Regions from separate parts of the Homo sapiens genome. Here region 1 is linked to region 2. Evidence: fine-mapped QTL for protein levels in blood plasma. A gene starts in region 2. The other region holds a variant in brackets. All regions are shown on one strand. Distances are from middle to middle.

Region 1 (2,901 bases), 47 kb before region 2:
AGACAGCAGGGATTCTGAAGTGCCAGGCTATTACCCTTTCCGACTGCCTCTCTGCTACAAAACAGGGCTTAAGATGCATCTGAAGAGCACAGAACCAAAGCTGCCTGGAACCATGTGTCAGGCTGATCTCAGCTTGGCACAGCGGGCACAGGGTCCATGTGGCGACAGGCAGCCCAGCTCCAATCCATGCTTAGCTGACGCCTAGACAGGCCGTGAAGCCAGAAGGCCAACATTCCTTCTGGGCCACCAGAACCTCCCCAGCACCAAGCCTACCGGACAAGATGCAGACACAGGACATTTGGCCATGAGGCTCCAAAACTGCCCCACAGCCCCCTCCTGACATTCCTGTCTGACAGATGGACTCACACACACCCCAGTACGCGAACCCTGGGCTTAAGTTCTGCCATCAGTCCTGGCAGGAGAAAAGGAGCTGTTTCGAGGCCAGCCTGCAGCGCGAGCCCGCCGAATCTGCCCTCAGAAGATAAGAGGCACCTCTCCTCAGGACCTGCCACCTCAGTGCGAACACCATCAGTGGCATGAAGGAAGGAATATGACACTTGTCAGGGGCATTGTTTCCATTGTGGGGATTCAGAAAGAGGAGAACAGAAGCAGGAACAACGCTCAGGGGGAAATGCACCGGGTGGAAAACAGGAGGCTGCAGATGGCGCAGAGGAAGGAGCTCAGCTCTGGGAAGAACAAGGCTGAGACCGAGGTCTGCATCTCCCCATAACTCCCACTGGCTGGGTGATCTTGGGCAAGTGGCCTGGGCTCTCCAAGCCTCGGCTTCCCTATCTGTGCAGTGGGGATAGGTGCCCTGCAGGTGTTAGATAGAGCCGGGGAACATTCAGTGCCTGCAGAGACATCTTAGTCCAATGCCAGGATTTGGGGGGGTGCTTCCCAGTCCATGGTGGGGGAAACACTTCCACTGAGGGAAGAGGATGTCGCTGCACTCCCCAGGAGGGAAAATAAGGGGGGACACCTGCAGCCTTTCACTCATTCTTCGCTCAGTGACTTCAGTCTGACCCCCACTGGGCCACATTCATCTATCAAGAACTTTATTTACTATCTGTCTCCACAGTGTGGCCTCTCTCTTCCTGTTTC[G/A]CCTGTTTGCAGCCTGCAGCAATAACACCCTGAAACAGAGGATAAGTCGGCCAGTTGTCCCTGTGGGCAGGGCCAGTGGTGCTGGGTGGAGAAGTTATTGGTTGGGGAGAGGTGATGCAGGAGGAGTAGGAAACCACAGGCCAAGCCAGTTTCCAATTTAACTTTACCAAAAATAGGGCTGGCCCTGTGCTTCCTGAGTTTATCTTCCAGCTGATTCCACTGGGAGGCAGGGGGAGAGGTAAGACTAATTATCATTCTCAAACCTCAAAAGTCAGAGTAGTCAGCCTTTTTATTTTCTTATTAATTCAGTGAGCAAACATTTCCTGAATAAGCGGTAGATCCTGGGGAGCCAGGTTCCTTGTCACCACCAAAGGTTCTCACTGCCTTTGGGCCCATTCACCCAACATGTGACCAAAGGGTCACAGAGTCCTAACAGACGTCCCAGTTAGGGAACTGCTGTGTATCCCAGGAATCAGCTGAATTATGATGCCATGGAGACTTGATTAGACTAGTGTGCTAAAAGCACAAGTTTGTTTCATTTTGTAAAAAATCATACACACGTGCATAATCAAAAAAAGGGTCCCGAGGTTCCTTGGGACCTAGGAGTGCAACCGATCTGACCCTCCACCAAAAGTTGAACTTAACCTCCGAGTTTTCTCCTCCCTCCCCTACCACCAATAAGCTTTGTGACTCTGTGAGGTACCTAATTTCCCCTGCCCCAGCTTTCTCTTCTGTAAAGATGATAACTGTGCTCACCTCTCTGTCGTGAAGGATGGGATGGGCACACTGCCACACAGCCTGGGTGCATGGCGGGAGAGGGCACAGCACACGGGCGCAAACTGCCCGTGCACACTTCTAAATGACTAATGGCATCACACTGAGACCTGCCTGGTTACACCCGGATGCCGTCTTGTGGCACGCACTGCATATTGATATACACTCCATTTTACAGCTTCATTTAACCAATGTGTTGAGTCCTGAAGGGCTTTAAGATATACCAAAGGAGGCCCATCCTCTAGGGGCTGTGTGGACAGAATAATTCCTAAAGCAATTCACAGCTGGGTAGTTAGTAATATTCCTCCAAGAAGAAACAAAAAGGGGTGAAACCAACTAATGAACATTAATAAAGAGAAGGAGCGAGGGTTAAAGTAGCTACCATTCAGGGCAGAGCTGGATCTACAGCAAGTGAGACACCAGGGCCTCATCCCAAAGGTAAGCACAGCCCTGGGGCCAGCGAGGAGGCCTGGGGAGGAGGCTGGGGCTGGAGGACACCCAGCAATCAAAACAGGGCTTGGGGGGCCGGGCACGGTGGTTCACACCTGTAATTCCAGCACTTTGGGAGGCCGAGGTGGGTGGATCACCTGAGGTCAGGAGTTTGAGACCAGCCTGGGCAACATGGTGAAGCCCCATCTCTACTAAAAATATACAAAAATTAGCCAGGCCTCATGGCGGGCACCTATAGTCCCAGCTACTCGGGAAGCTGAGGCAGGAGAATCATTTGAACCATTTGAACCCGGGGGGCGGAGGTCGCAGTGAGCTGAGATGGTACCACCACACTCCAGCCTGGGCAACAGAGCAAGGCTCTGTCTCAAAACCAAAAAAAAAAAAAAAAAAAAAAAAAAGAATAGGGCTGGGGAAAGGCTGCTGTCATGGCGAATAAGCTACTGGCTCAAGTCAGGCAGAACCACCAGAATGCCACAGAGGGGCATCCGGCTGGGGGGCGTCATCCCCAGGGCACAGATGGGAGGAGCCTTTGTTTAAAGAACTTCTCAGGAAGTGGGATTCGAGATGGGCTTTCAT
Region 2 (2,901 bases):
AAATGTCTGCCGAATGAAATTTCAGATTCTCAAGCCGTTTGTTTTCACAAAAGGGAGGGGAAAGGGAGGAAAGCAGGACCTCCTACTCAGCCCAAGTGCAAAGACCGATGGGGGGCGTTTCAGGAGATAGCTCCCTCCTCCTGGCCCAGAGACCCGCCCAGACCAACTGGCTCCAGGGAACTGATGGCAAACCAGCATTCAACAAACCCAGACGCAATTAAGTGACACTGCCCCACTCCAGCCTGGTTCTCCCCAAGAGGGAGAACACAGACCGAAGAGAACAGGGGGCTTCTTTCCCCACCCACTTCCAACCAGAGAGTACCAGGCCACTCCTCACTGGTGATCCAAAAGGCCAGGGTATTGGGAGATGGAAGTGTTTCAAGCAACTCAACCCACACTTTTCTCCTCCCATTTGCCCAGTGTCCTTGCCACACCCAAATGGAAAAGAACGGGAAAATCTGGGTTGGGGGGAGGGTGCCAGGAACAGGAAGTTCCCTGGAACTTCAGGGGAAAAGGACCAGGATGGTCCTAAAATAAGGGAGCGCATAAGTTATGGAAAAGATGGGGAAGGAGGCCACAATATCTCATCACACACCCACAGCGAAACGAAGGCCAAACCCCAGACCTGGGCCGGCAGGCACACCCATTCCGACCTCTCTCAGGGATGCCTGGAGTCCCCCCCACCAAGTGTAGCAAACTACTCTTGGAGTCCACTCCTTTTCCACTTTTGTAAGATTTTGCAGTTTACACAGCTTCCTCCACTGAGACCTCATCCGACTCTCAGAACCACCCTATGGGGGTAGCTTTGCCTTTCTATATCATGCATGAGGAAACTAGCTCAGATACATTAAATGAACCGCCGCGTCACACAGCTAGAAAGTGGCTGAGGCTCGAGCCCGCCTCAGTTGGGTGTAGGAGCAGCTCCTCCGCCGGGGCGGGCTACGTCGACCCCACCCAGCCCACCGAGCCTGGCCTGTGGGCGGAGGCCCAGGTGGTGGCCCGCAGTTTCCCAGACGCCTGGGGCCGAAGCCAAGAACAAGGTGGCCCTAAACCAAGGTTTCCGGCAGTGCAGGTAGTAAGCACCCCCATCCCACCCCGCACTCACACAGGTGCAGGGCTCGGAGTCTGGAGCGGAGCTCACCCCGCAGCCCGCCGGCGTCCTGCCCGACCGGCTGTGCCCCGACCTGCATCCCCGCAAAGTTGTGGCCGTGGCGTAAGCACCCTGCCAGGGATCTCCCGGCGCCCCACAGCTGCCTCCTGCCCCTGCGTCCGGGAGCGCTTGGCGGCGAGGGCACCGGGACGCCCGCTGTCTCCCGCGTAGCACCCAGTGCCCGCCTGCCTGGCATGCACGCCCTCATCCCGGTGCCCCGGGGCAGCTCCCCGCACGTTCCGCAGAGGGCTGGAGCAGAGAGCGCAGAAGGGCACGCGGGACACACGTGCTGGCCCGGCCCGGATCCCTGCCCCACAGTCTCACCCAGATTGCCAGCAGCAGCCACGCCGGCCCGGCCCGCGCCATCCCAGCAGCGCTGCCCACCGCTGGCTCCTTTCTCCACTCCGGCGCCCGCTCCCGCCCGCCCGCCTGCTAGCTCCACCGCGGCCAACCACCACGGCCACTTCCCAGCCGCTCCCCGCCTCCGAGTTCCCGGTGCCACGTCTGCCAAAGCATGCGCAGCAGCTGGGGAGAGGCGGCCGGGAAGAAGTGCTCGCTGGGAGTTGTAGTCTGCAGCCTGGCTCAGCTGGGGGCTGCGGGTGCGGACTGGGCTCCGAGGCCACGTGGCAGCGAGTGAAGTGCGAAAAGGCAAGGTCAGGGAGTAAGGGAAGGCAATTAATGAGCGGGGGCTTACTCTGTGCCTGGAGCTTCAGAAACAGTATCTCACGCAGCTCACAGAAATTAGGTTTTATTTTCTCCACTTTGAGGATTAGGAGGCAGCGCAGGGAATTTAAGTACGTTGATCCAGATCACACAGCCGGTAAATGGCAGAGTCCAGGGCTGCCTGTGAAGGACAGGAAAAGCCCTCATCCCTGCCTCCCAGACTCCCTCCTGCTTATTCTATTTAACTTCAGTAAAACATTATTGAGCTGTTGGAAAACAATCTGGTGGTTCCTCAAAAAGTTAAACATAGATTACTATATGACCAGCAATTCCACCCTTAGGCTAATACCCAAAAGAATTGAAAACAGGTATTCAGACAAATGCACGTACACCAGTGTTCACAGCAACACTATTTACAATAACCAAAAGGTAGAAACAACTCTAACGTCTGTCAAAGGATGAATGGGTAAACAAAGTGTGATACATCCATCTAATGGAATGTTATTTAGCCATTAAAAGGAATAAAGTGGCCCAGCAGGGCAGCTCATGACTGTAATCCCAACACTTTGGAAAGCTGAGGCAGCAGAATCGTGTAAGACTAGGAGTTTGAAACCAGCCTGGGCAACATAGCAAGACCTCATCTCTGCTAAAAATAAAAATAAAATAAAATAAAATAGCTGGTGTGGTGGCAAGGGACTGTAGTTCCAACTACTTGGGAGGCTAAGGCGGGAGGATTGCTTGAACCTGGGATATGGAGACTGCAGTGAGCCAAGATCATGCCACTGCACCCCAGCCTAGGCCACAGGGTGAGACCCTGTCTCAAAAAAAAAAAAAAAAAAAAAGGTGGGGGGGAGAGAATAAAATGCTAATACATTCTACAATGAATGAATCTCAGAAATGTATGCTAATGAAAGAAGCCAGACACAAAAAGTCACATATGATGTGATTACATCTTATGAAATATTTAGAATAGGTAAATCCACAGAGACAGAAAGCATAGTAGTGGGGGTGGGGAGGAAGGAATGGGGAATGACTGCTTAATGAGTATAGGGACTCCTTTGGGAGTGATAAAACATTTTGGAACTAGA

Direction of the effects. Positions count from the first base shown, and alleles are read on the strand shown. Strength reflects both the effect of a copy and how common the allele is.
As copies of A replace G in region 1, the plasma level of the protein whose gene starts at base 1,656 in region 2 goes down (strong association).

Evidence for each region. PIP is the posterior inclusion probability: the model's chance that the variant is causal. The UK Biobank Pharma Proteomics Project read protein levels with antibody pairs (Olink). The fine-mapping took linkage between variants from a reference panel, not from the people measured, so its PIPs are less certain.
Region 1: its variant is fine-mapped to the plasma level of the PDIA5 protein (UK Biobank, PIP above 0.99).

What each region holds. Positions count from the first base shown.
Region 1 is chr3:123,112,357-123,115,257 of GRCh38, reverse strand. The region is part of intron 7 of PDIA5 (protein disulfide isomerase family A member 5); the gene reads right to left. Among named protein-coding and RNA genes, the nearest start is that of PDIA5, 47 kb to the right of the region's middle. The variant G/A (reference allele first, on the strand shown) is at 1,102.
Region 2 is chr3:123,065,780-123,068,680 of GRCh38, reverse strand. PDIA5 (protein disulfide isomerase family A member 5) reads right to left here and starts at 1,656. Exons shown (of 17, transcript NM_006810.4): 1 at 1,475-1,656. The coding sequence starts at 1,516. RefSeq lists a silencer at 1,362-1,601.